Regions from separate parts of the Homo sapiens genome. Here all the other regions are linked to region 7. The links come from fine-mapping of genetic effects on gene expression. A gene starts in region 7. Each other region holds a variant in brackets. All regions are shown on one strand. Distances are between the middles of the regions.

Evidence for each region. PIP is the estimated chance that this variant, and not a neighbour inherited with it, causes the effect.
Region 1: its variant is fine-mapped to the expression of BCL2L11 in whole blood (TOPMed, PIP above 0.99).
Region 2: its variant is fine-mapped to the expression of BCL2L11 in whole blood (TOPMed, PIP above 0.99).
Region 3: its variant is fine-mapped to the expression of BCL2L11 in cerebellum (GTEx, PIP above 0.99).
Region 4: its variant is fine-mapped to the expression of BCL2L11 in whole blood (TOPMed, PIP 0.92).
Region 5: its variant is fine-mapped to the expression of BCL2L11 in whole blood (TOPMed, PIP 0.98).
Region 6: its variant is fine-mapped to the expression of BCL2L11 in whole blood (TOPMed, PIP above 0.99).

What each region holds. Positions count from the first base shown.
Region 1 is chr2:111,411,611-111,415,774 of GRCh38, reverse strand. All of the region lies in intron 1 of MIR4435-2HG (MIR4435-2 host gene), which reads left to right. Among named protein-coding and RNA genes, the nearest start is that of SOCAR, 78 kb to the left of the region's middle. The variant TC/C (reference allele first, on the strand shown) is at 2,580.
Region 2 is chr2:111,429,102-111,433,265 of GRCh38, reverse strand. The region is part of intron 1 of MIR4435-2HG (MIR4435-2 host gene); the gene reads left to right. Among named protein-coding and RNA genes, the nearest start is that of SOCAR, 60 kb to the left of the region's middle. The variant G/A (reference allele first, on the strand shown) is at 1,958.
Region 3 is chr2:111,159,358-111,163,357 of GRCh38, reverse strand. The region is part of intron 3 of BCL2L11 (BCL2 like 11); the gene reads right to left. Among named protein-coding and RNA genes, the nearest start is that of BCL2L11, 40 kb to the right of the region's middle. The variant A/G (reference allele first, on the strand shown) is at 2,375.
Region 4 is chr2:111,371,543-111,375,706 of GRCh38, reverse strand. The region is part of intron 1 of MIR4435-2HG (MIR4435-2 host gene); the gene reads left to right. Among named protein-coding and RNA genes, the nearest start is that of MIR4435-2, 53 kb to the right of the region's middle. The variant A/G (reference allele first, on the strand shown) is at 2,581.
Region 5 is chr2:111,459,425-111,463,588 of GRCh38, reverse strand. The region is part of intron 1 of MIR4435-2HG (MIR4435-2 host gene); the gene reads left to right. Among named protein-coding and RNA genes, the nearest start is that of SOCAR, 30 kb to the left of the region's middle. The variant A/G (reference allele first, on the strand shown) is at 2,327.
Region 6 is chr2:111,140,477-111,144,476 of GRCh38, reverse strand. All of the region lies in intron 2 of BCL2L11 (BCL2 like 11), which reads right to left. Among named protein-coding and RNA genes, the nearest start is that of BCL2L11, 22 kb to the right of the region's middle. The variant T/C (reference allele first, on the strand shown) is at 2,425.
Region 7 is chr2:111,118,843-111,123,001 of GRCh38, reverse strand. It overlaps BCL2L11 (BCL2 like 11), which reads right to left and starts at 2,088. Exons shown (of 4, transcript NM_138621.5): 1 at 1,814-2,088. RefSeq lists silencers at 4-563, 1,356-1,650, 1,984-2,523 and enhancers at 1,534-1,653, 2,804-2,883.

The sequences.
Region 1 (4,164 bases), 290 kb before region 7:
CGAATAGGAGCCCGTTTGTTGAGCACTTAATGCACCCTGGGCACTGAAGAAGAAATGCGGAGGAGTCCCCAGGACTTGCTGAGTCTCCTAGAGACAGCAGAGGTGCTCTGCTCACAGGAGCTCATTTTCTGCCCACAACAACCCTGTGCCATCAGCTACATTATCTCCAGGTTTCTCATACAACCAAAGCTGAGGCTTATAGGGTGGCACAACTTCCCCTGCTCTGGCTCCGAATTCAATATTCCTAAGCCATAAAGCATTTCTCTTTCCTCCCCATCCTGTTCCTATTCCCAGTCTCTCCATGAACACACACACACACACACACACACACACACACACACACCCTTGTCTACACTTGAGCTGTAGTCTGGGCCCGTTACATCAACAACACAACCACGGCAGAACGTGGATTGGTCCAAATTGCAGAGATTTTAAATCTAAATTTCCCATGCTATTGAGACTTTACAGAACCAGTCCTTCAGGTGAGTTTTGATTTTCTGTTTAAGCCAGGGTTCAGCAAACATTTTTTCTAAAGGCCAGAGAGTAAACATTTTAGGCTTTGCTGGGCTGCATGGTCTCTATCACAACGGCTCAACTCTGCCATTGTAGCATGAAGCAGCCACCGGTAATACATAGAGGAATGGCCCAAGGTGTGTTTTAATACAACTTTATTTTTAAAAACAGGCAGAGGGCCAGATTTGGCCTACGGGCCATAGTTTGAGACCCCATAGTTTGAGATCTAAGTCATCACTAAAAGTGTTATCAGTAATTGAGGGTTTTAGACATTGCATCTGTCTAACCTATCAGAAGTAAGATTGGGGGCCAGGGCCATTGCAGTGAGGCTGTGGAAGTTCACAGCTGCTTAAGAAGCACTGTGACCAACATCGCTCCTTACCCCAGATGGGCCAGGCCAGCAGTCACAACATGTGCTCCATGGGGAGACAGCAATAGGCATTTCGCTAGAAAAGAGTTCTCTGGACTAGTAAGTTTAGAAAACCTTGGGCTATTATTATCGTTATTATTATATTATTCCATGACTGCAGGACTTCTCAGGGCTTTCATAATGCTGATGAACATGAATCTTCCTAGATATTCTGGATCTCTAGGAAGGGAAGGTTTGTGTGCAGAGCATGTCTGCACGATATTCTTTGGGAAGACTGCGCTGGCTCCCGTCCTAGAGATTCTCATGCTGTCTTTTCTTTCTACCTGTTTTCCCAACTGTTCCCACTTGAGAGTACTGGCCTGAGTTGCTGCCAACCTTACAATATCCAGCTCCGTCCTCAGAGCCACACTGCGGTCCCACTGGGGACTTTGGTGGCCCTGCCTCCCTGCAACCCCAGGTACTCAGTTTGGAGGGTGTGGAGAGGGCAGGGTTGAAATGCAGGCTGCTGTGTCTCTTTCCTTCAATTTTATCACCAGCTGCTGACCATGCTTGCTTAAAGGTCTGGTATTTATGGTCTCCTAGAGTCTCCCAGAACCTCACAAATACCCCCGGGCTCCTGGTTTGAGGGACTAGATGGGAAGCCCCCCTCCCTGGGAGAACACAGGCCTAGAGCTTCCTGGAACTTAGGCAGCTTGGTCAGGGAGTGTGAGGACTCTGACAGGAGCACGGGTGTGGGACATTCATGCCTGGAAGGCCCTCGCCACCTGAGACCTCGGTGTGGAGGCGGGACTTGGAGGAAAGGAGTCCCTGCTATAGTGGAAAAACCAGCCAGGGTAGGTAGTTTTGTATAAGACTCTTAACTCTGTGGAGACTTCTGTTCATTATCTGCAAAATAGAAATGTGTATCCCAGCAGCCTAGGCTTAGACTGTGAAGGACTAGCTGAGGGGTGTGTGAGAAAGTTTTGCAAACATGGCTGGGCACAGAAGGCTGAGCTATTGTCTGGAGGAAAACTCTCAGGGCAATTCAGACCTTTCTGGGCCCTTCTGAGGCAAGAGGCATTGAGGCAAAGTTTGAGATTTGACTTCAGGGACACTGTTCTCTAAGCATATGCTTCAGTCACGAGCGCTGAACCCACTCTCAAAAGCTAAGTAGTAGCAATGAAATGCTTAAAAAGTTCGACCCAGACTGCAAAGACCCACAGAAAATAGAGCACAGTGGCTGGCTTGGGGAGGGACCCTCGGTCCAGACAGCAGCCAAGGAGTTCTTGAGCCTTATTTATCACGTTGTAGTATTTTACAAGGAGGGCTATGCGTTATTTCTCTAATTGAACGTTACTTTTAAAAACAGACAAAGAGAATCAGGAAAAATGATGTGAGGACCTTAGGCCCAGATCTGTTTCCGTTTCAACAAGATGTGTCAGGATGATGAAAATGTCGTTTGGTTGAGCCGTGGTCATCACCCCGCATTGTTGTTCTTTCATGTGTTTGTGTGTGTGTGTGTGTGTGTGTGTGTATGTGTTTCCCTCTGAGTTTCCCAGTAGTCATTACTAAAAAAAACTCCTAAACTGACTCAAAACAACAATGACAAAAACAAAAGCAAACAAAAAGACCCAATCACCACAGGCGCCATTCAGGCCCTCTTGTCTGACGGTGTTCACAGACTGTGCTTGTGTTTCTGGATGTACCCGCTTCCTTT[TC/C]TCTCTTACTCACCAGATATCACTGGGAATCCCTCCTTCTTGCTCCAGGACTCTAAAGGAGACACTGGGGTAAGACTCATGTGGGTCTTGGGGCAGCCCATTTCCAGGAGAGCATGACCCCCACCCCCCAAGCCCCAGGAGGACGGACCCTTCCCAGCTGAGGCCTCCTCTGCATCCGGACCAGGGCCCTGGGCCTGAAGCCAGGTTTTAGTGAAGGCCTTTTGTGGGTGCCTCTCTTGCCCAGGAAACACAAGGTCTTTAAGCTAAGCCTGTTTGTGGGGAGAGCAACCCATTTCTTAGAGGGACTCAATCCATAGGGAGGACACTAGTCCATCAGGGGGCCCTTGTATTTTCATCCTGGAAAGCACAGTCCCCTGTTTCCTTCTGGGACATGAGAAGTTGCTTCTAATGGTTCATCCCCACAACCTCACTTCCCCATCCTTGATTTGCAAATGGGTCCATAGAGAGGTCCCAGGCAGCTACTTGACCCAGGCAGCGAAGGTGAGCGTGGGTCTCCTCACTGCCATGAGCCAGGCAGAAGAGCAAGCAAAACAGCTAAGAACCAGACAGGCCAGAGTTCAGGTTGCAGCTCTGAACCTGACTAAGCTGTGTGACCCAAGGCAACTCACCCAACCTCTCTGAGCCTCAGTTTCCCCACTTAAAGTGGAAACAAGACCAGCCCCTGCCTCATGGAATTGTCATGAGGAAGAGTGAAGGGGTGCTCGTGCAGAGCTGGTGCCCAGGGAAGGGGCTCCGGTGCCAGGCCTGACAGCTCGTCAGGGAAGCCTGCTGCCGGCCATCCCAGGGAGACAGTGCCAGATCAGAGGGAAGCTCAGCAAGCCACTTAAAAGGGACCTTGACTCATTTTGTGGTAACCGAATGTGCAGTTCAGGAAGTGCTTCGCAAAAGCGAACTGGGCTCCAGCCGCCCCCTCGTCCCCCTGCCCTCTGCTCAGGATTCACTGTGCGAGGACCCACCTGACACCACCTGATGCATGCCAGCAGCGTGGATGGCAGGCCCCACGTGTTCTCAAGCCCACCAAAGGCTGGTGGGTGTCGGCTCTCGGAAAGACAGCCTGACCTCCTGGACTGAAATTCCACTCCTCTCTTTAGTCGAGGTGCTCAATCTCCCTGAGCCTCTGTTTCCTCCTCTGTAACTGGCACTACCGCATACTAGGGCCGGTGCAAAGCCCTTGGCAACTAGGTATCATTTAATCCCCACAAGCAGCTCTAAAGGCAAGTACGAAACCTTGCCATTTAAGGATGGGGAAGCTGAGGGCACCTTGAGTTATGCCAGGGCACACACAGGGTGAGTCTTGGAGCTGGAATTTGAACCTGGGGAATGGCACTCCTGGGCCTTCCCTCCTAACTCATAGTATCTACAACCTGGATTGTAGACCTAGCTAGTAGGTCTTGGGGGTCCTTCCCTCCTAACCCCTGGTATCTAGAACCTGGATCGTAAACCTAGCTAGTAGGTCTTGGTGGTTCCTCACATGGATAGAAGAGATGCCAATTTCCATTAACCATGCACACTGCTGCTTGGTGGGCAGGTGAGGAAGTGGTCTGAGTGTGGAGGAAGCCCAGG
Region 2 (4,164 bases), 310 kb before region 7:
CCAGGAGACCCGGGTGTGTGTCCTGGCACTGTCACACTCTGCTGACGAGGGTATTGAAAGTCCCCACTCAAAGACACAGAATCTTCCTGACCAAGTGTAGGTCTGTAATGACGTGTGGAGCACTTTGCAGAAACTGCTTCTCAGCGGGGGTCCCCTTGAAAAGGTGCTAAGTCTGCTCAGAGATACGTGGCTGAAGCTCTAGACGCGGGAGCCTCTGTCAGAGACAAGGGCAGGGGGACTCAAGTGCTGCTGCCTGGCTCCCCTGCCCTGACAGCTCTAGCAGCACACGAGTCTGATTTATACAAAGAACCCATCTCATATCTCCCTAAAATTAGTCTGTGATAAGCAATATACATTTCCTGAGTGTGCGGTCTAGGTTTTAATATTCTGAAAAATAAAAACAGTGGTCTCTTGAGAGCTGAACAGTTTGGTAGTTACTGAGCAGGCTCCATCCTCCTTGGCAATTCTTTTGAAATCTCAAAAAGTTGGCTTCCTATACTGTTAGAATCTGGTGTGAGTCAAGAATGGACAGGGTGTGAGTTCCTCACTCGTCCCTTTTCTATGCATTGAGGAAGACCTCGGTGCTGCCAATGGGGCAGAGGAAGCTCAAGTGTGTTTTTGCATGAGGCTGGCTGGAAGCTCTGGCTTGGGCTCTCAGCAGTGAGGTACTGGCAGTTCCTTGGATGTCACAGCAAATCGAAGCTTGTGGTCTTCACTTCCTCCTACCTTGAGACTTACTGCACAGAAAGTAGAGGCTTGGATGGTTCAACTTCAGGGGCAAAACAGCCTGCCTTGGGGGTGGGACTGGGGGTATGCATCTGTGCCACTGCTTCTCTCCCTTTGTCAGTTTACCATGCCAGCAGCCTTCTGTCTGTTATCGGGAAGAGAAAGAGCATGATTTGGGAGCTAGCTGGGGAGCTTCCTGAAGGTTGCCTGAGCTGCATTTGGGGCCCCTGATGAGGGCTTCTATTCAGGGTGATGTGTGTGACCCTGAGGCCATCTCTCAGATCTGGGGGGAAGTGAGGTTTTGTACCCACAGTGGGGAGACCTACCTGGCGGCTCATCAATATTAGACACCTGCAGGAACAGCAGGTCAGCCAAGCCAAAGAGTAAGAGTGGCCCTGTCTGTGACTAGATGCTTCTTCAGGGTTGCCTCAACACCGGAGTGGCGCTGGTGGTCTCCACCCACTCCCAGTGTACACTGGCATCTAGGAAGCCATGTGTGTGATCGGCCCTGAATTAGGGGCAAAACTTTTAGTTCTCAGATGAACTGTCGTGGGTTTATTCAGTGATAACTAGACAGCCAGGCCAACATGGAGTTGATTCATCCATGCAAAACTTCCCAGACAAGGCCTTTCAGTGGAGAACTGGAATTCAGGGTCTTCTCAGCTTTGGCCAGAAGCCAAAGGTAGGAGAGGTAGGAGAGACCCAGGTCCTGGTCCCAGCTGTGTCCCATCCAGAGTGACCTTGGGAAGGTTGCCAACTTCCTTTTTCGGTGAGCCTTGCTTTCTTCACCTGCAAGGTGAAGGGTTGGTTGGATGATCCGTAAGGGCCGGCCACCTCTCACTCTGTGACTTTGGCCCAAGGTCCACATGGTTGGGTGTTCCATACTGTAGCCCTCCTGGGCTATTACATTTTGGTTTTTCATTGCACTCAAAAGTGGGGGTAACTGGTGAGGGGCACGGGTTGGTAAACCACCTCTCTATTTCAGTGATGAAACTAAAGAAACCAGGTTTCCCCTTCCACCCCTACAGGCCACTGATGCATTACTTAGTTCCTGTTTCTCTTTGCCCACCCAGGAAGACACTGCGTATGAAATCCTGGGCCCAGATGCTGGACTTTAAGCCACATTAGAAAATGCTAGCTCATAGGACTCAAAACGGGAAGCTGGCTTTCCCAACAGATTCATCTGGGCAGTGTTCTTCCCAGAATGTGTAGGAATCATGGGGCCAGGTTC[G/A]CCAAGGCTCAGGAAGCTCGGTATTTCACTGTCACTAGCCAATGAGGCCTTTAAGGAAAAAACAGATAAGACTGTAGGAGTTTATATGGATCCGTTAACTCACTTGTACAAGACATTGGGAAAGATACTGGGGGTGGGGGGAAACAATACAGAGTTTCAAAAGATAAATAGAGACTGTCATAATCACCACATGTCCTGGCAGCCAGGGCTACGGGGTCAGGAGAAGCTTTATTCCCTGGCCTGCAGCACTGCAAGAGACCCTAGGAGGAGGAGAGCTCCGCCAGGCCCTGCAGGCTGGGCAGCCTGCCTTCGGCCACATTTCCTAACACCACTCAGCAGAGCCCTGCCAGCAAAGGCCAGTGTGCAAAAAATGTTATGCCCTATATATGTTTGGGAAGTGCACAATAATTTAAACAGCTTTCTTATTTCTTAACTTCTCTGGGTATTTTGTGTGCTACTGTATCTTGTGAATGAATCTCAAGAGGAAGGATGAAGCTTTTCCAAAATCACATGCCTTCATCTCATTTTACAGAAAAATTTGTGCCTAATATTAACCAAAGGAAATGGGGAGCGGCAGGGCCAGTGGGTTTTCATGGTGAACTGAGGGTTGCATCTTGGACAGGTTGCATGTGGAAGGGACAGCAGGGTTCCCAAGGAAGCTTTGCACGGTCATGGGTAGAGCCATCCCTTCTTCATCCATAGTGAATATGGCTGGAAATAGCGGGTAGTCTTGGATTTGACCTCCCTCCCATGGAAGTGCTGTCTCCAGCTCACTCCTGGAAAAACTGCTTTCTCCCCAAAGTGTGTCTGAGCAGCAGATTTAAGCATGAAGTTGGTTTTGTGGGGCTACAGTATGGACTTTGGGAAGATGGTGCCATCTGTATTTCTGATTCTACCGTCCCTCTGTCTGTCTTTGGAAGTATCCTTTCACTTGTTTGGGAGACTGAGAATGATTTTCTGCAAACAGTGAGCCAGACCATGCTGGTCTCAAGCGGCAGAGCAGTTATTAACAGAATCACAGTCTTTCTGGAGCTGCTGTCAGTCCTGTGCTGTCCTCAGGGCCTTTGCTTGGTCAGGGGCCCCACTTCTTATCCACCCTTCCCTCTACCTCACCGAGGCTGCTAGGCCCAGGTGTATTGTGATTATTTGATGCACCTGGGAGGCCATGTCTCCCGGGGAGTCTCAGGACCTCATTGGGCTGGAATTCCACGGGGATCTCTCATTGGGTCTCTTTGGGCCTTTGGAGAGGGGAGTGCAGGGCACCACCTGGGCGAACACCTGTGCCATCCTGTAAGTCCTTGTGTGACTCTTCATCCAAGTCAACAGGGGCATGTAGGGGAAGAGCCTCAGGGCCCATCAGGAGTCAGACCCTGACCAGGAAGTCAGAACTGAATCAACTTTTCAATAAACACACAGGCTGGCCCCAAACAAAGCAGCAGGCTTTTGGGAACATCTGCCTTTTCAGTCTCTTCTGAATTCTGTTTATGTGGACACCCCATGTCCCGCACCACCATTGCCGCCAGCAATGTTTGTTGCTTGCCAATATTTGAATAGATGCTGATAAATTTGATTCTCTGGCTTATTGTGGCATTCATGATATGTCTTTCCCTTTTCAGTTTCCATGTACTAGAGCGACTGTCAGTGTGGTTGGCAGTGACCTGTGTTTTTCATGCATGTTTTTGTTTCAGAATAACTGGGAGATGAAACAGGAAGCTCTATGACACACTTGATCGAATATGACAGACACTGAAAATCACGACTCATCCCCCTCCAGCACCTCTACCTGTTGCCCGCCGATCACAGCCGGAATGCAGCTGAAAGATTCCCTGGGGCCTGGTTCCAACTGCCCACTGTGGACTCTGAGGCCTCTGCATTTGCGGGTGGTCTGCCTGTGATATTTTGGTCATGGGCTGGTCTGGTCGGTTTCCCATTTGTCTGGCCAGTCTCTGTGTGTCTTAATCCCTTGTCCTTCATTAAAAGCAAAACTAAAGAAAACAGAATTGTTTGCTTATTAGCTATCTTTAAACGCTGATTGAAAGGATATCGAATAGTGTTTGAGGGAACCCTGGCACGTCCACACAGCTCATCTGACATGTTTAAATGTGTGTTGGGCTTGACTCTCTCATAACTCAGCCACGCTTGTCTTGCTGCTTCTCATACCTCTCCAGATTGCTGTAGAGTCAGTGTGGGCAGACTGACATTTGAGA
Region 3 (4,000 bases), 40 kb before region 7:
GCGGCAACACAACACCTCAACCTCGACGCCATGAGCTACAACCTGGTTCACTGTTCAAGTCTGAAATCTGCCCTGGACATTTCTTAATGACTAATCCACACGAGACCGGGCTACATGACTGTCTCTCCACAAACCCCCTTCTCATTGGGTGGGGGATACCTCCAACACACCGTCGCGGGAACCACCTGCCATGCATCAGGCTGAGACAACTGTCCCCTCAGACCCCGAATGGCCCCCACAGACACCAGCCGCAGCTGCAGCTCCACTGTTTACACAAGCTCTGCCGCGCTTGTTTGACAGAATGGGATTGTGATAAGGCCAGGGCATTTCCCCTTTTCCTTCCATAACAAGATTGGAGGAAATCAGCTTTATGTAAGCGATTCCTGTAGAGGCACTCTGTAACCACAGTCTGTGATTTTTATCTGTTTTACACACAAGATTGCTTTGTTTTGATTTAACTTTCAAAATTACTTTGCTGCCTCTGTGTGAGAATAATTTAGGGGAAGGTTAATTTTAGTGTAGACTAATATTAATAGGTTGAAAGAGACTTATTCAAAATAAAACCACAACTTACTAAAATGAAGAAAGTGTACGCTATGATGGGCTAAGTAATCAATCCAGGCAGAGTTGTTTTGTGCCAACCTGGTGTCATTGCCATGCTTGGTGTGGCCAGAAAATGGGGCTGACTGGGTGTCCACAATCATCAGGACACCAATGAGGGGGCTGGGTCAACGTGAAGGACAGACCCCAACTGCTGACACTTGGTAAGTTTCATATTCCAGCACTGGCAGCGTCCAAGGGAAGAAATCTCCTGCCCACTCTTTGAGGACAGCAGGAGGCTGTGACCAAGCTTAAGTAGAAGTCACCTCACAAGAGAATCTTTCCAAGGTTTTTAGAGTTCCACTTTCATCTCAAATGTAAAGGATATGGGGTATTCAAAGACATGTTGGAGAGGGTGGGGAAAATGCAGGAAATTTTGGCAAAAGTTACACCCAATCCCTGACTCATGAGAAGATGCTACAGCATCCCAGTCTGCAAGTGTGCGGGGATGCCTGCCCTCTCAGACGGCGGGCATGACAACATGGCACACGCTTTTAAGCTGACAAGCAATTGCTTTTGGACGACATTCAACAGAGGAAGCCATTACCACGGATTCAAAGAGCCGTGCCAGCCCAGAAAGCATTTGACAGCTGGCACGGCCGGCTGGAGCTGCTGTTGGCTCGAAGTGTATGCCCGTATTGCAAAAGACAGCTGGAGGATGGGCAGCCCCTACCTCTGTAGACTGGCTGCCCTCTAATACCTGCAGCCATAAAAATTACTGTGGCTTATAGTCGGGGCCTGGTGACACTAAACTGGGGCAAGTGGCCAAAAGCTGCAGTGGGGCAAAGACGCAGAACTAGGACTGATGGCTCAACGCTGCTCAAAGCGCCAACAGCTTCAGCCAGCTCCAGTGAAATCTCCCTGCGATCTAGATACTGAGGAACGGCTGCTACAATTCAGCTCCTAAACCAGGGCCTTTGGTTTTGGGGTGGTATAAAGGGTCAGGAGGGAGTCTGAAGCAATTAGAGAAAGCCCCCTAAGATGGAATTTACTGGTGAAAGGTCAAAGTAAGGGCACACCCAGTGGCTTCTGGCCAGGGTAGCACATCCAAGATGGAATTGGAAAGTCAGGACTAAAGATGACAATCCCTGTATTGCAGGGGAGTTGCCAGTTAAAGGCAAGTATGACACTAAGACTGAGCCAGGAGCTGTCATTTGCAGTGTGAGTGGTTCCTCGCATCTAACATGGGCTAAGACAATAAACACACCCATAAGCGGATCATCAGCAGCCATGCCTTGACCGTCTTCCTGAGACCTGCTGTCTGCAGAGCTGGCCTCCCGCCTAGTGTCCAATAAGTCTGCGTCTGCTACAGTGGTTCTTAATCAGGTGGAAGAGGCATCTGTGAATCAAAAGTGCATTTAAGTTCTGCCACTCCCAAACTGGGTAATATAAAAAAGACAGACTGTCTTTCCTGATTACAAGCGTTTTTTAAAAAACTATTAAAATAAATACAATCAGGGAAGATGCTCCACTCCCTCCTGAAACTTCTGGGTATCTTCCTCTTTATGGGCTGAACTGTACACTGTGTCCCCTCAATTCATCTGTTGCAGTCCTAACCCCCCGGACCTCAGGCTGTGACTGTAAGTGGAGACAGGGTCATCAATAAGGTGATTAAGTTAAAATGAGGTCACTGTGGGGTGGGCTCTAATCCACGGTGTTCTGGTAAGAGACAATCAGGACACAGAAACCCACGGAGGGAGACCACGTGAAGACACAGGGGATGACAGCATCTACAGGTCTGGAGGCTAAGTCTGCACCATGATCACAGACTTCC[A/G]GCCTCCAGAACTAAGAAAAATAAATTCCTGTTGTGTGAGCCACCCAGTCTCTGGAACTCTGCACAGCAGCCCTAGCTGACTAATACACACTTTCACTGATGCTCTCAGTCTGTCACTCTTTAAGTGAAAACAATCCTTCTTACAGAGTTGGGTAACTCTGTTTTAGTCTAAATTGCAAAAATACTTTAGAAAGGTATAACAACTCATTTGGGTGAAGGAGATTATTTTTAAAGACCAAATTTGCTAGTAAGTTACAACTGAAGTGACCATATACTACAGTTCTCTCCTCTCTCACTTTCTCTACGCAGACACACATACACACAATCACAAGTGCACAAAGAGGAGGGCCCCACCCAGTTGGGTACTGTAATCTCCATAGCCTAAATCAAGAGCTATATGAGGACTGGGTTACCTGGAGGTAACTGCCTTTTGTGGCCATCCCATGTGTCCAGAAGATGACTCCTTCAACATTCACAACCTTGTGTGTCCCTCCAGGAACCAGTTCCTGACAGCCCCTGCCCCTCTCAGGGTAAGGGGCTCCAGTGGCCCTGTTGCTGACCAGCATCAGGTGGGGGGCCTGACTTCAAGGCACGTGTCTGTGTACCCACTAGGTCTGATGGTAATAGCTGTGTCGCCAGCACAAAACAGTAAACAAGATAATAAAGTAAGGACAATACAGAGGCAAATAAAATGAGAGGGAAAAAAACCACTGGCCAGAGAGGAAGTGGGGGAGCCAGGGCAGGAAGGCACCAGGGTGAATCCCCACATCAAGCCCCAAAGGAAGAGGAGAATTTCTTGGAAGGACAAGAGGAGAATGGGCAGTGCAGGTGGAGAGAGAAGCTGGGCAGAGGCAGCAAGGCCAACAGGCAGAAGGGGCCAGCAGTTCAGTAAAGATAATCTCAGTAGTGGATAAGTATTTATCATAAACCAGAAGGAAAGATTATGCCAAGTTGCAGGATTGCTCCCCCACAGACTGTGCCCTCTAAGTGTAAAGGCATAGGATTATGTGTCTACAAGTTCCTCAGCATAGACTTAAGCAGTCTTTCTCTGAAGATATGAACAATGCCCTTTGAGACGGTGTCGAGCATTCAACAGGGAATTCCTAAATAGTTCTTCACATGTCCCCATGACACCAGATGGCACAAGCTCATCTGGGTGGCAACCTGGGAGGAGCTGTACCACAGGAATGCCCTAGCGTGGGGTTCCTGCTGCCTTGCCAGGGGCTGGAGCTGCCACTGCAGCGAGGAACATTAAGTGCAGGGCAGAAGCATCTTCAATTTACACTTGGGACGACCAATTAAGTGTCAGGGAATTTAATGACATTCTAATGCCAAAATAATCACAGAACACCACTCTCTTGCTCAGTCCAGGGAAGCAGATGCTTGGAAAACAATAGAGGCCCTGGCCCCAGGGAACTGGTCAGGTTGAACAGCAGACAACTATAGAATGCAGCTTTGGATTCAGCTTCACTCTCCAACAGTGAGAGGAGTCGAACCTTTGAAAAGCTGCCTAGGGCACTCCAGGCCTTTGGACTTTGTGTGCCCAAGCTTGGGGATGGAAGAATTGCCATGGCCACCACTAAATGAAATAACCTAGCCCATGCTTTTCAGTCCCCACAACAACCC
Region 4 (4,164 bases), 250 kb before region 7:
GTATGTTAACGATTTGCACAGTCCACATCAGCATCCCGTTAACTTTCTTTTTGTAACCCTCAGCATGGTTTTAAGAACCTGGAAGTTTATTGCGTAACTGTTTTGCTTGTGAAGTTGCACATGATTTCTCAGAAAGATCAATTCAAACCCGCCTTGTCACCCCTCTCCACCCAGGCCCCACTTCCTGCTTTGCTGGGGCTGGGGGGTCAGAAGTAACATAGCTAGAGACAGATGTCCATCATCTGTGCTTGTGATGACAAAAGGAGGTAACAGGAGCACAGCCAGACCCTCACTCCTTGGAGCCCTGTTGTGAGCCACTCATGGCATGCACCATTCTCTGTCCTCACAACAGCTCAGACGGGTAGGAATTATTGGATTCTTTCTCTAAATGGGAAACCAGGGGTTTTAGGTGCCTTATCCATGGACCCTGCCCTCACCTCCCTCACCCAGTGCCCCCCTGTGCCTTGCTGGCTCTATCTGTGAAATTTATCCATGGACCCTGCCCTCACCTTCCTCACCCAGTGCCTCCCTGTGCCTTGCTGACTCTATCTGTGAAATGTCTCAAGAGTCCATCCTGTTGTCTCCCATCCCATGTCTCCCACTTGGCCCACAGTCCAGACTCTTACCTGTCCAGACTCCTACTCCAGAGAGACCCGGCAAGATCTTTGGGAAAGGCACATTGAGCCATGTCCTTCTCCCCCTTGGAACTCAACAGTGGCTTCCTGTCACTCTGAGAACAGAATGCAGCCTCCTCCCTGTGCATGACAAGCACCTCCCTGAGGTCACAGCTGTGGCTCCCTGACTCTGCACTGGTCCAGTCCAGCCTCAAGGCCTTAAATTTGCCACTCCAGAACCCTGGTTTGGACCCTGGACTCTGAATACATTCTGGTCTTTTCCTCAGGGAGGTCGAGGCACTGTCCTAGCTTGTGACCTGCTCCCATACCTATTTTCTCAGGGTGGAAGCAGACGCTCCAACTCCCACACTATGAGGCTGGTACCATTACCTCCAAGACCCAAAGCCTGTAGGAAGTATAGCAGGCCTCACCCAATACCCTGCAGTTCCCTCACTTGCTCCAAGTGGGAGGTGGGTCTTCACGGGTCCCCAAGATGAGGGCCAGTGGCTTTCCTCTTTCACAGGCTACAGTGGGAGCGAGTCTTCCACCATGGGACCTCTGGCCAGATCTCAGGGCTCTGTGGTTGGGGGAAAATGGCTCTCTTTTATGGGGCTTTAAGACATGAACTGACATGACATGTCCTAGAGACTATCCAGAGAGCATGTGGATCACTTTTTGCTGCTTTAGATCACCTTCTTTAAAATCAATGCATTGACATACTTTCAGCACTTAAATTTTCGTATTCTATTATCGCATCATCTCAGAAGAAAAGTCTTTCATAATTAATGAATCTCAGGCTGGGTTAAATATGCAGTGGCTGCCCACACACCACTTACTCTATTGCTTCAAAATAATTGGCTTTCACTTATCAGGTCTACTAGAATGACTGTCTTAAACCAGTCACGTGGTGGAAGCATCACCATGTTTCTTGCTCAGAAAATACCCTTTCAAGGGCTTTTCTAGGGGAGCCGGAACAGTAGCCAATTCTAGTGGGACCTTTAAGAAACAACTTTGCCCAGGATGATATTTGAGCCCTCTAAAGGGCCAATAGGGGTCCCTCTATTCAACTTTCCCTCCGAGTCCCACCAACCTCCCCACTTTGGTTCCATACAGCTTGGATTATTGCCCTACTAGTTCAAAACTGAAAGTTTCAAATAAAAACCAAAAGACAAATGTTAAATCACATTGAATTGATAACTGAGACAATCCGTCAAGCATATTTTGCTTTCCTGATTTTTCAAAGAAACCCTAATGTTGCACCTTCCTTGTTGTCAGTTTAGTACGTTAACATTTTTTTAATTAAACTTCAGTATCATTGAACAGGTCATAGAGTGTGAGCAATATTGTCTTTGTTCCAAAACTCCAAATGTAATGAAGCTGCCATTCACAATTGTTTTCCGCTGGGCTGCTTATTTTAAAAAAATGATTTTGATGAATAAAAATAGGTGCATTTTCACAGCGTGGGGTCCAGCAAGAATGAAAACCTTACGGATCACAGCCCGGCCCCTGGGGGTGCGGGAGGAGGTGTTGTCAGATGTCAATTTTGGCTGATTGTTTTTGAGGCCATGAGACTGCCATTCCTGTGTCCCGTGGTGCATTTTAGAGACTGATGTCACTTTTTTGAGATAAATTATTAGAGAAATGTTTATAGATGAATATACATTTCACAGTGTGCCAGAGTTGAGGAGTCTAATGAAGTTTAGAAGGGACACTGGGATGAGGGTGCTGAGCTGCGGTGCCTGTGGCCTGTGACAGACACCTCCTGCACCAGGAGGCAAGGATCCTGATGGTCAGATGCTCAGTCCCCAACAAGAGGGGGTTCAAAGCCAGTGCAGCCCCTTCCTCCCACCGCTGGGGGCAGCAAAGGACCCACAGTGGAGATTGCAAACTATAGCAGGGGCTGTGCTTTGTGTTTGTTTTCAATATTTGAGCCATCATACAAAAATCTAGTGATTTCTCATTCTCT[A/G]TACAAAAACCAGAAGATCTGGGCCACAAGGTCTGCATTTTCCCCAGTATCAGTCTGCTATGGCCCCATATTAGCTGCCTAGGGCCCCTCACTCCTGCTCCTGCTAGACTCTGTGGATATTTGAGTCATGACCTTGCCTCAAGGCTTATTCACGTATTATTTATTTATTGTTAATATAGGAAGGGTCTTGCTCTGTTGCCCAGGCTGGAGTGCAGTGGCACAATCATAACTCACTGCAGCCTTGAACTCCTGGGCTCAAGTGATGCTCCTGTTAAGGCATATTTAGATGGGAGGAAACATCTTTCTTCCTTTAGAGCATCTAATTATCGGCATGGCCCTGGACAAATTATCCTAGAGCCTGGAGCCTCAATTTGCTCATCTCTGTAAGGGGGGTGACAATGCAACCTCATAGGGTGGTTGTGAGTACTACATAGAAAAAGACTCCAGAAGGAGCACAGGGCCTCCATTGGGAGCCCCTCAGCCAACACTCCCTCCTTGCTGCCTGCACAACCTCAAGAGAACATGGAGTCCTTTGGGATGCTGAAAACTTTAAGGAAGACAACTGTGCATTCTCTGTGTAAGCAGTGTGCACACTGTCTTCCTCCTAAATGGCTAGTTGGAGGAGTGAAGACAGACTCACTCAGAAATGGGTGATTCCCTGGCTGCAGTCTCCTCTCTGATAACAAAGGACTGGGCCCAGATTAGAGACGAGGCAGGAATTATGTGCTGCAGAAAGGCGGTGGGGACATCTTGAGTTTGTTTGTAGCTAATCTCAAATAATTCAGGTCTTTTCCATTTGCAGCAAATCTGATTCCCTCAACACATCTGTGGTAAAATGTTATGAGTGCTTGCGGAGACCAAGTGTGGAGGGGATTTTTTTTTTCCACCACCAAATCCATAGTTACCCTCCAAGTTGTAATCTTATCATATTTAACTGGTTCCACATAAACAGATCTATGTATATTTTCAGTAGTTTCAGCTGAAACCTGTTAAGAACAGATGTGCCAATGGTTCCCTGGCACTGATCCATTTAAATATATTTTTTCCACGAACAGGTTTTTCTCTCTCCCTTTCCTTAGAGGGGAGAAAAAATATGAAAGTGGAACCACCATTAAAGTGGATATTACATGCTTCTGTGTTCTCTGCAACCAGTGTTTGCCATTGGTTTTCCAACAGCAATTTGGCACATGAGGCTGTGAACACAGAGTGTGCATTTGATGGACAGTATTTGCTCTGAGGCTGTGTGGCTGGGAGAATGGGCTGAGAGCTCTGTAGTTGCTACCTAAGCTAGGGTCAGCCAGGGTTAGTTTTTCCCTGCTGCTGCTGCTAAGCAGCCCCTGGGCAAAGGCTTCAGCAGGCCGTCTGCCTCTTTGAGCCTTTAGTTTTTCAGTTGCAAACAAAAAAAAAAGGTCCAGGGAGTGGGAAGATAAAGAACTCCTATAACTCAGCAACAACAACCTGATTAGAAAATGGGCAAAGGACTTAGATAGATATTTCTACAAAGATGATATATATTAATAAATGGCCAAAAAGCATGTGAAAAGATGACTGGCATCACTAATGATTAGAGAAAAGCAAATAAAA
Region 5 (4,164 bases), 340 kb before region 7:
TGTGATGGCACTGCTGCCCTCCAGCCTGGGTGACACAGTGAGATCTTATCTCAAAAAAAATAAAAAAATCAAAAATAAAGAGCTCCTGATTTCCATCCCCCACCGAGAATCATTTTCTGAGTCAGCTGGAGTGTTTCAGAGCCCAACACCCAAGGAGCAGTGCAGGGATGGTGCCCAGTTACAGGGGACAGCTCAGCTCTGAATGTTACAAAGGGCACTTCATGGACCACCACCTTTTCTCTGCTTGCTCTGTACCCCTAAAGTACTACAAGGCATTTTTGGTTAATAATAATTTGAATACTATGTGATCTTGTAGATTCTACTGCGTTTGGCTAGCTAATGTCTCTAAGTAGCAAGATGATTTATTTTTTCTGGACAATACCAGGACTATATGCTGATACAGGACTGGCTTGCTCTAAGGATCAGATTTTCCAGTGTAAAATATATACTCCTTATAGGGTTGTAAGAGCAGAAGCCCGTCATAGCCTGTTTCTTTTTGCTCTCTCTTCAGCCAGCAGTTGGCCTGGATCTTTGCTGGTAGACACAGGGAATGTTCTCCTTGATGAGTGGTTCCCACCCTGGCAGCCTCAGATCCCACCATGTTGGCAGGGATGCTGAAATCCACCTGCCTATCAGCCTTTGTAAATAACAAAAATCACAAGTGGCTCTAGCATTTATGTATTCTATGATATTGGGACTCTTGTGATATAAATAATACAAATGCTTTTACATGCATAATTCAATTTATACTATGTTTTATCTTTAATTACCGGATAATAAAAACATAACTACTCTCAGGAAGTGTGAGGGATGGTGACTCAGGCTAAGGTGAGCCTCACAGCCTGGAGGCTGGCTTTAGTGCTGGCTGGGAGAGCTGCAAGGAGATGGCATATGCTGCCGATGAAGGTGTTCTCCAGGAATTTTCAGTTAGAAGTTTTGATCATTGTTCATTTGGCCTCAGGATGAACATCATGGTACTGCTTTTCATTCTCTATAATTAATATACTTTTCACAGTCAACTTTGCATTTGAAAGTATTTATTTTATGGGAAACAGTGAAAAGTAGATAATTAGCACATGTGCAAATCTGTTTGGCATTTGTGGGGTGTTTGCCCTGAAAACCTATGGATGAAGCCCAAAGACAGGAGCTGGGGGGTTTCATTTAGTTAACTTAAAAGTTTTAATTGGTCTGTGTTACTCTTCTTGTTACATATTTTTTTAAGGCCCTAAGGTGAGCAAGTTACATTTTAAAATAAGGAGGAAAAGCCAGTTTTAAAAGTAGAATTGAGTCATTGCATGTGTTTTTTTTTCCCACAAACATTAGCTGTGTGATTATTATGTCCCAGGCACCTAAGGAATAGTGCCCTTGTCCTGGGGAAGTTCACAGTTTGGAAGGGGAGATAGTTGGGAAAGGTAATGTGAATATTAACACTCGTGTTTCCTGGGGGCCAAAAAGTTCCAGCTTCTGGGCCAGGTTAATTATCTGAATTATCTTATTTCATCCTTACATTGGGAACCAGATGCCCCCAATGCCCTTCAGTGACTTTTTTGGTGGCTTTGAGGAAAAATGAGGCCCAGAGAGGTTATGTAACTTGTCCAAAGTCACACAGCAGGTAGACTTAAAGTCAAACAGTTAGCTCCCAATGTGCACACTCTTAATTACCATGCCACTAAACCAGACTCTGAACAAAGCACTCTGGGAGCACAGAGAAGACCTCTGAGGGTCTGTCTGTGTGAGTCTAGGGCATGTTCAAAGTTAAGAGCTGATGTTTAGCTCAGCAGGAAAGGGCTGGGGCACAGTGTTGAATACACATATCAGGTGGCATTTATTGCTGATGACAGTAAAAGAAAAGTGTAAAACAAGATAATTTGTTTACATTTCAAGATACGTTAAGTTTTTTTTTTTTTTTTTTGAGATAAGAGTCTTGCTCGGTTGCCCAGGCTGGAGTGCAGTGGTGCAATCTCAGCTCACTGCAACCTCCGCCTCTCGGGTTCAAGCGATTCTCGTGCCTCAGCCTCCCGAATAGCTGGGACTACAGGCGTGTACCACCACGCCTGGCTAATTTTTGTATTTTTAGTAGAGATGGGGTTTTACCATATCGGTCAGTCTGGTCTTGAACTCCTGGCCTCAAGTGATCCACCCACCTCGGTCTCCCAAAGTGCTGGGATTACAGGCGTGAGCCACTGTGCCCGGCCTCAAGATGCATTAAGTTTTAAAGGCCCCTGGTTATTTCTCGTCTTCTGAGATGTCATTCCAGTGTGACATGGTTAACATCAGTGAGGATGGCATTCCTGTCCCACACAGTAAAATGTCACCTCTCACACAC[A/G]TAACTCTGGGCGTAAAGTGAGTAAAAATATGAGACTTAGAAGAATATTTCATCATGGTATGCTGATTGGGGATTTCACTTACTGATACTAGAAAGGTTTTGCATTTCAGAACACGATGAAATAGGTAATATTTATCTGAAAGACGCAGACAAGTGGTGGAGGAACCAGACACCCCCAGTGCCGTTTGCTGGCTTTTATCAGACAGAAAGCAGAAAGGAGAAACATGTTTTATCCCATGAGAAGGAAATATTGGCTTGATGTCTACCATGCCCAGCCTTGCACTAGACATCCAGGTAGCTGCTCCATGGAGAAGTTCACAGGGTGGTCAGGATAGCACAGGGAGGAGGTGATACGCTTGAGGGAAGTCCAGGAGGGACTCAGGGAGTGTAAGCCAGTAGGGGGGTGCTCCTGAGAAAGGGAATGAGGCTGTGCCTTGAAAGACTGATTAGATAGAGGAGGAAGTGAAGCATCAGAGGCTGCCCAACAGAGGCAGGAGCTGGGGCTGGGGTGGGCAAGGAGAAAATCACGCCGTCCTCCTGTGTGAACAGTAGAGTTTCATCTGCTGAGGGCAGAGGCCATGTTTTATCCATCTCTGTCCCCTTCTATGTCCCTTTTTCTCCTCCCTTCCCCATTCCCTGGCATCATATTGGGACTTGTTAAGGGCTGAATTGTGTCCCATCCCAAATTTGTATGGTGCCACCCCAACTCCAGTACCTTGGAATGTGACCGTATTTGGAGAAAGGGTCTCTGAAGAGGTAATTAAGGTAAAATGAGGTCATATGGGTGGCCTCTAATTCAATATGACTGGTGTCCTTATAAAAGGAGATTAAGAGCACACCAACATGGCACACGTATACATATGTAACAAACCTGCACATTGTGCACATGTACCCTAGAACTTAAAGTATAATAAAAGAAAAAGAAAAAAAAAGGAGATTAGGATATAGACATACACAGAGGGAAGACCCACGTGACAACATAGCAAGTAGGTGGTCATCTACAAGCCAAGGAGAGAGGGAGGCCTCAGAAGAAACCACCCTGCCAACAACTTGGTCTCAGACTTCCAGCCATCAGAGCTGTGAGACAATACATTTCTGTTGTCAGTCTCTAATACTTTGTTATAGTAGCTCAAGCAAACTAATAATCCAGTGCTCAACATATTTTTGTTGAATAAAAGCACAAAGAGATTCATGAGAAGAGGGAAATGTTGCATACTTAGGGTAGGAGCAAACCACAGAGGTCTTTCTCAGCCTGGGCAAAGAATGTCAACTCTGTGTTGGAGCCAGTAGGGAGCTCTGTGGGTCCTCGAGCAGGAAAATCCCATGGCTTAAGCAGTGTTTCAGGAAGACTGGGATGTTAGGCTCCAGAGCTCTGAGCAAGTCAGATGGGACTGGGAGTCATAAGAAGGCTTGACTGTGGCTAGTGATAACCAATGAGCACTGGAAACATGGAGGGGAATCTTTCCTCCCTTTTATATCAGGGTTCTCTCCTAGAGGAGCAGGTGAGGACCTCTGATGGACCAGGAAATTGGAATTCTGCCTGGGAGGCAAGCCCATGGAGGCCCTGATCTGCTTGGACAGAGAGTAGCTCCCTTCACCTGTAAAATGAGAGTGAACGAGCTGGTGTCTAAGGAATTCAGAATCCCCCCCCTGGAGTTCCACAGGGTATGTGGGATTTTAGGGGGACCAGGGTGTCCCCAGTGCAAGAAGGAGGCTCCCACCAAGGGGCTGCAGCACTGCAGATAACCCCCAGGGGTATGAAAAGAGGCTGAACTGGGGGCCTCCACAGTCAGAATCCATCCATTGACCCAGGATGCCAGGAACGGGGAGGCCCATGG
Region 6 (4,000 bases), 22 kb before region 7:
AGGAGAGCAACTGCCATCAGCGTTTGCGGTAAATGCTATCAGAATCATGTTTGAAATCCTCAACTCTGACGGTTCTCAGAAATAAAATAAGCAAGTAACCAACAACACACACACACACCTCCCTCCAGGTCTATTTCTCACTTGTATCATTTTATTTTTTGGCAATCCCAATCAATTCCGCTGAGCCACTGGATGAAAACAAAAGCTATGAGAAATACGATGACAGCATTAGTACTCAAAGATTCCTCAATCTGTCTCCCTGGAACACATTTGTGTCAAAAGCCTGGGCAGTCACATGAATTCAAGACAGTGCTTCAAAAACAGCTGCTAGGATAAAATACTATCAATAATAAAGTTTATGAGATGAGGCCAGTGTTTTCATACTTACTCTTTCAACGTGCACTGCCCATTGCCTTTATGGAGCCATGGTCAAAAGAAACAGCTTTCATCAATTTCCAGCCTGACCATTTGGAAACTGCCAGTAAACCAAGGCTGTGAAGTTGGACAGAAGTCTGGAAACTAGTGTTCATGAGATTTTTTCCCTCATTCACTATTATCTGTCCCTTATAATAAAAATACAAGTCTAAAGACATTAAGATTAATGTGTTATGCCTTTTTACTCATTTCTCATTCAACATCAGAAAAACTAATTATCCATGTCACCAGAGCTGTCCCCGACACACATATTAACATATTTACTAGCAGCTGGGGACAAGCCAGGAGCAAACCCAGACTGAGCTGTGATCCCTATACTCAAGGACATCCCCAGCTGAGTCACGACAGAAGCCCAGCATCTTGCACCATGTGGGAGACCTGAGCAGGAGCCCTCTAAGACTCCCAGCCTGTGTGCCCGCTTCCTGGGACAGATGCACATTTCCTAAGGCACTGCTGTCCTCGCTGAAGAACACTGAGTGCTACGATGCTATTCCTCGTAGGGAATTGAAATGTTCCCTTCTAAGCCCCACTTCAATCTTGATTCTGCCCCTGGGACTATAAAGGAAATCTATGATCCCTCTCAATCATCACCCCACTTTTTGTCAGTGAACCTGTGCCAAACCTGGTCCTAAACCAGTTCTTTCCATGTGCCTTGTATGACATCCCCTGGGAAGCCCCTTGACCACCTGGCCCGCCTTGGTGTGCTCCTGAAATCGCTGCTCTGAATAGTGTGTGACAGTGTTCTGCCCCTGGTGTTCTGCCAGTGTTCTTCTGGGGAAAGACACGGGACACTGAATACTGCTACTACTCCTTAGTTTTTCTACACCAACCTTCATCCTAGTAAGTCTCTGCGACAGCCACAGCTCCATTTCTATAGCTTTAGATTACTTTCAGGGGATTAAAAGTATCTGACCTGTGCCATTTTATTCTGAAAAACAAAAATAATCCCAAAACTAAGGACAGCTAAAAGAAGACCAACCCTGAAATTACTTTAGTGCAAAGACACAAATCCCTATATTTTTTCTACTGACGAGGTAAACTACCCAATTTATTTCCCCATAAGAAGAAAAATGCTTTAGAGACCTTTTAAAAGTAAAGATAAAACTCTATATACATTGGTTCACTTAAGACCATTCCTTAGAATTAAAATGCTTAATTTGAAGTTACTGTAAGTTGTTTCTAGCCAAAAAACCAGATCTGGGCAAGAGGGGAGGGAGATGAGAATTTAAACAAAAAATATAAGAATTTCTGATGACAAAATAAGTGTGGCTTCCTCTATGAAATTTAAAACCAGTAGCAGGAAACTGGTGATTAACATCTTTTCTCCTAAACTCACATTAAGGTCTTCAGTATTACTGTTTTCACCTCCATGATAAGAAAGACCAAGACACAGGTAAAAAATAAGAGCAAAAACAGAATCCTTAAAAAGCTACACCTTAAACAGTTTTTAAAATAAAAATGGAAAAAGCCTATAATGTATACGGTTAAAACTTACAATGGTGATATACAAAGTGAAGTACAATTTAACACAGATATGATTATTGATAACACACTGTAGGGCTAAGACATAATGAAAGCTTCTCACTTAAAAGTCACAAAAGGCAGCTGCTTCTTTTTATCCCATTTTGAATAAAAAGAAAAACTTTTCACCTTGATTTTGCTAACCACTTGAGTGGCCACTGAACTTCCCTATGAAGGGCAATTCTGAGGGAGGATCCAGCGGAGTCATCTGCAAGCCATAAAAATGTTGTATAAATAAATTGTGCCATGTCTTCCCAGACAGATAACTTGTTTTGTCACAGAAGGAAAAGAACAGGAGGTAGAGTCTTCATTAGCACAAGTGCAAGTTAAGGATGTAAAGAATTCTGTGCTGAAAGACTGTGTTCTGGTGCTTTTGAAGGTCTTCCATGTGTTTAGGTTCACACATTCCTCCTCCTCCCTGATGCCCCCACTTTCCAGGGCAGACACGGCTGCTGCCCAGTGAGTCTG[T/C]ATCCTAGATGAGAAACACACTGTGTGATACAGATAGAATTGGGATTGTTCTGGTCGGGTGCAGTGGCTCACGCCTGTAATCCTAGCACTTTGGGAGGCTGAGGTGGGCACATCACTTGAGGTCAGGAGTTCAAGACCAGCCTGGCCAACATGGTGAAAACCTGTCTCTACTAAAAAAATACAAAAATTCACCAGGCATGGTGGCACCTGCTTGTAATCCCAGCTACTCAGGAGGCTGAGGCAGGAGAATCGCGTGAACCTGGGAGGCGGAGATTGCAGTGAGCTCAGATGGCACCATTGCACTCCAGCCTGGGTGACAAGAGCGAAACTCCGTCTCAAAAAAAAAAAAAAACTCACAAGAATTGGGATTATTATTATTATTATTTTTTATATACTTTAAGTTTTAGGGTACATGTGCACAATGTGCAGGTTAGTTACATAGGTATACATGTGCCATGCTGGTGTGCTGCACCCACTAACTCGTCATCTAGCATTAGGTATATCTCCCAATGCTCTCCCTCCCCCCTCCCCCCACCCCACAACAGTCCCCAGAGTGTGATATTCCCCTTCCTGTGTCCATGTGATCTCATTGTTCAATTCCCACCTATGAGTGAGAATATGCAGTGTTTGGTTTTTTGTTCTTGCAATAGTTTACTGAGAATGATGATTTCCAATTTCATCCATGTCCCTACAAAGGACATGAACTCATCATTTTTTATGGCTGCATAGTATTCCATGGTGTATATGTGCCACATTTTCTTAATCCAGTCTATCATTGTTGGACATTTGGGTTGGTTCCAAGTCTTTGCTATTGTGAATAATGCCGCAATAAACATACGTGTGGATTGTTCTAACTCAATGTAGGCCAGTTCCCCATAGGCACCAACTCCCTACACTGCTATGACCACTGCGGAAGGGCCATGGCCCTAACACTGAGATTTCCAGGCAGGCTAAGGCATTTGCCCCAGGGTTGTTAATAGGCCTATGGGAGGACCAAGGCTGGGCTGGGTCACCTGCTGGAACCTCCTACTCCACACCTCACACTAGAGGAGCAGAGGAACACAAAGATGAGTCAACACCTTGTACAGTGTATGCCAGGCTTTCTTTGCCGAGGACAGAGTTCTAAGCTTCAAATGAGCACCCTGGTGAAATCCAAGTGAAAAGAGAAGGAACTGGTGGCACTCGTATATTGCATTAAACGCTAATGAGAGTCTCTTTAAATCAACAAATATTGCACTCCTGCTATGTATCAAACTTTTTCTTAAGTTGTTGTTTTGACTAATTTAGTAGAATTTATGATCAAGTATCAGCAAAAATGAGGTGTAAACTCACATATATACTAACATTGTATCTATTCAGAATTCACTATAGACTACTTCAGGTTAATGCCTTTCTCAAGGGACCAAATAACAGACAAATCAACAAGAAAATACACTTCTAGTCTTTTCTCCACCACACATCCCACAGAAAAGTAACTCACTCAACAAATCAGGTTATCGAGCTTGGCTCACCTCAGACACCTTCGCAGATGCACGTGCCTAAGAGAAAATCAGATTCCATCCACTTAAGCTGCCTT
Region 7 (4,159 bases):
CTAGGCGACACCGGTGCGCGCCGCGCCGCCTTCATCCCACAGACCCTCCCCTCAGAAGGCAATCACACCGAAACTCACGTCCGCGCCTTCCCTTCAGAGCGCAGCGTCCGGGCCAGGGACCAAGCCCCGCGGCGTCCGGCCCGCGCCCTTCGCCGACCGGGCGCCCCCTGACCGTCACCACGAAAGCAGCGCAGGAGACAAAGCCCGGGACTCGGGTTCAGAGTCCCCGGCGCAGCGCAAAGCCCGCGCCTTCCCGCCAGCCCGCCGCCGCGCTCCGCCGGGCAGCCGAGGGCTCCGCACGCCGCGCCTCTGGCCCGCGCTGCCCCGGCCGCAGCCGCCGGGAACATCCTCCGCCTCCTCCCGCTCCTCCCCTCGCGCTCTGCGCCCGCCGCCGCCGGCACCGCCGACCTCCCCGCGCCGCTGGCGCCGGGTGCCCGCGTTCCCAATTGGTCCGCGCGCGGTCGCTCCGCGCCGCAGCCAATCGGCAGCCGCGGTGGGGGCGGCGCCTACGGGTCAGGCCGCCAAAGGCGAGGCGATTGTTGACAAACTCGCCTCCGAGCGCTGCTCTGGCCGTGGTCGTGGCGGCTGCCGCTTCGTCGGAGGATTTGAGGGCCGGCTGGCCCGGCCACCCTGCCCATCCCTGTGCTCCTTCCGGACACAAGCCTTAGCAGCTCCCGCCGTCCTGGACAGCCAGTCACCTGGAGACAAAGCAGGACTTGCGCCGCGCCCGGACCCGCAGGGCCATCCCCAGGCCCAGTCCTCGCCACTTGTCCTTGTTTTGGCCCGTCGGGGGCAGACCCTAACGGCCGTCACCGCCCTGGCTGTGGCAACTATTCTCCTCCAACAACTTCCTCTCTCTCCTGGTGCGCCGCAGACACGAGTCAAAGCCGAAGAGCCACCCCTGGCCGCGGACGCGCACGTCCGCGACCATCGAGTAAATTCACACCCTCCGCCCTGGCGTCCGTCGGGCCCTCCACCAGCAGCGCCAACCCTGGGGCAACAGGTCCCAGAGGGCACGGCGCCGCCAGCCTGCACCGCGAACCGGGTCGGGTGTGCTCGGGCATGCGTGAGCCGCTAAGATAGCCCGGCCCAGGGACCGAGCAGGTTCTGCCGGCCGCGACTAGTCCCCTGCGCGGTCCAGGTGGTCAGGGGAGGACCTAGATTTCTCGCTGCCAGGGAATCGTGCGGATGGCACAGGCCGCAGGACTCCTGCAGAGCAAGCAGGGGCCCCAGGTACGCTTGAGAAAGCGAACGCAGCAGTGGCCCCGAAACCTTGGCCTGAATGAGTAAAAGGAAAAGCCGTGTCTCGTCAGTTAAATCACCACCGCAGTTCCGCAAATCCTCCGCAACAGGCCCACGCGCCCCAAAAAACCAAGACACGAAACACCCTCACACTGCGCGGCCGCTACTCTGAGGGCGCCGGAGCCGGCGGCGAGACTTTCCAGCTGGGCGCACAGCCCGATACTACGAGCAGGTCCTCAGCTCCCGGGCCGGCGCCGAAAGGCACGCGCTGCCTCTCCTCCTGCCCGGACCTACGACCCTTCACCAGGCCCGCGCGCAGCATCCCGTCCCAAGCCGCACTTCGGCCAAGAGCCTGCAGGTTCCGCGTGAACGACTTTTCTTTAAAGAGAACCTGCCCGAGAGGGAACCCGATCCACACGGATCCCCACCTCCCGCCGGCGACAAGCGGCGCCGATGCAAGCGTCTCCGCTCGCACGTGCACGGGAAGCGGGCAGTAGGTGGTGCCGTTCGGGCTCCAGCGCTAGTCTTCCTTCGGTGCCAGGCCCGCGCCCCGGGATTTGGAGGTATTTACCTTGCGTTTCTCAGTCCGAGAGTCAGAGTCAGACATTTGGGGGAACAAGGGCCAAGAAAGGGCGCCGAGGCGGTGGCGGCGGGAACGCAGCGAACCGAATACCGCGATGATGCGATCGCAGTGTGGCAGGGTTCGCAGGGTGGCTGCAAGAATCAAGTGGTGGTAGTGGCGGCGGCGGCGGCGGCGGCGGCGGCGGCGGCGGCGGCGGCAGCGGCAGCGGCGCTGGACGCAGAGCTCCAACAAACTGCAGACCAGGCGGCTGCGCGGAGCGAAGTGAAACCTGCGCGGCCCTGCAGCCCAGCTCTGGCTGGCGGCCCCGCTCCTACGCCCAATCACTGCGGACCCCGCCCCCGCTAGGTCCCGCCCCGGCGCGCGGGCTGGCAAGCTCCGCCCCCCTCGGCGCCGCGGCCGCCGGCGCGTGCAGGCTCGGACAGGTAAAGGCGGGGGTTGCCCCGCTGGGTTGCCTCCCGCGCGCGCCGCCGTCCCTGGCGTGTTTACCGGAGTAACTCTGCCTGCTGGCGGCCATGTGCGCGCCCATCCCCCACCCCGAAGTGTACCCTAGCCTCCCGCTCACCTACCCCAACCCGGCGGCGGCCGCGGCGTGCGCGGCACAGAGGGGGCGCTCCGGTCACAGCCTCCGCTGGCCCGGCCGGCGGTGTGAAGCCTCGGGAGGCGCCCTGCGCTCTCACTGTGCCCTGAGTTTCTAAGCCGCTCTGGGGCAGGCGCGGGGACTGGGTTGGTCCTCGCGAAGGCGCGGGGCGAGGTCTTTGAGCTCTCCTCCCTCTGAGGGTCCCTGGCGCCGGGCGGGACGCGGATCAGCAGGCTGCGCATCTTCCTCGCCCGGGCCTCTCGCGGGACTCAGGCACCCTCCTCCTGCCACCCCGCAGGGGCTCTCCAGCTTTTCTTCCGCGCCCAGTCGCCCTAAGAGACAGAGGCCGTGGGGGCAGGACGCGCCCAGAAAACGGCCAGGCGCGGTCCCAGTGGGCGTCTTCGCCGCCTCCCGGGTGAGGGCGGGAGGCATGTGCAAAGCAGGTAAAATAGGGAAATGAAAAAAGCACTCAGAAAAAAAAATCCTTTTAGGAAAAAAAAAAACGAGGTGAATGGCGGCCTCCAAGTGAGAGAGAACGTTGCGCACTGCATTTGGCTAGGACCCCCAAGATTTGCTGGGCTCGCAGATAACCTCGTAGGAGCTCCCTCGACTGGCTGAGGCCAGTGAAGGCAGAACAGCTGAGTTCGGGCCGCGGTGCGGGAGCGCAAAATACCCCGTCCCTCCTCCCCTCCCGCCTCCCCACCCATCCCTTTCCTCCCTGGAGTCCGCAGCACCTCACTCTACCTCCCAGGAGACCAAACTCCATGCCGCCTCTCCAGTCCTCTGAGTCTGCACCCGGGTCTGCTCTCCCAACGCGTGGCTGGCGCCCCAACCCCGGCCCTCCTGTCTGCTCCTCCCGCGCCTCAGTTCCCCAGCCCCAGCTTCTAGACAACTGCAGCGGGGGTGTGGGAGGTGGATCGGGAAATGGAACATCCCGCAGGTGAGGTCAGGCTAGATGGATTAAGGAAACTCTGTAAAGGGACCACCCTACACACCACCGCAGCCGGCAGGGAGAAGGAAGGGGCCTTGCCGTAGAGGAGCAAGTGAGGAGGCGTTGTCCCGCCGTCCGGCCGCCTGGAGCAGTTTTTAAATTCATAAGCGCTTCTGTAACGTCAGTGGGACACAGCGCAGCCCCATGCCAAAGTCTCAGCGCATTTTCGGGTGAATTTTGAGCGAGGTGAAGGAGGCCTTGGGTTCCCGGAGTCGCTGGAGGACGCGCGTCGGGCCCCGCCCAGTTATTTCGCTGCAAGAGGGAAAAGGCACGAGCGTGGACACGGCTAAGTAGACTCGGAGGCCGGAGATCGGTCCTAACCGGGCCTCGAAGTTCCTACCGCGGACGAACTTTGCTCTTCGCGGCCGTCCCGCGTCGCACCCGGGGAAAAGCAACACAACTTGCTGCGCGGGCTGAGAGCCCGAAGCCCGCCGCACGCCGCAATGCTCCGCGCTCCCCGCGGGGTCGGGCGACTCAGACAGGGACCGGAAAAGAACCACGCAGAAGAAAGCCCTATTTCTTGTCGTCTGTTCCTGTGCAGCCTTGCAGCCTCGCCGCCCCCGCGTCGCTCGCTCTCGCGACCCTGTGAACACTTTGAAAAACAAGAGTCGGGGGAAGCAACGGGCTAAGCGCTGCTATTTGGGGCACTAAAAGGAAGCCGGCCAGAGGTGGCGGGTTCATGCGTCCCCCGAGACCCAGGCCGCGTCGGGGGCCAAGAGCCCTTACAGCCTTCTCCCGCGCCGTCGGGAGGTCCTCCCGGAACTGG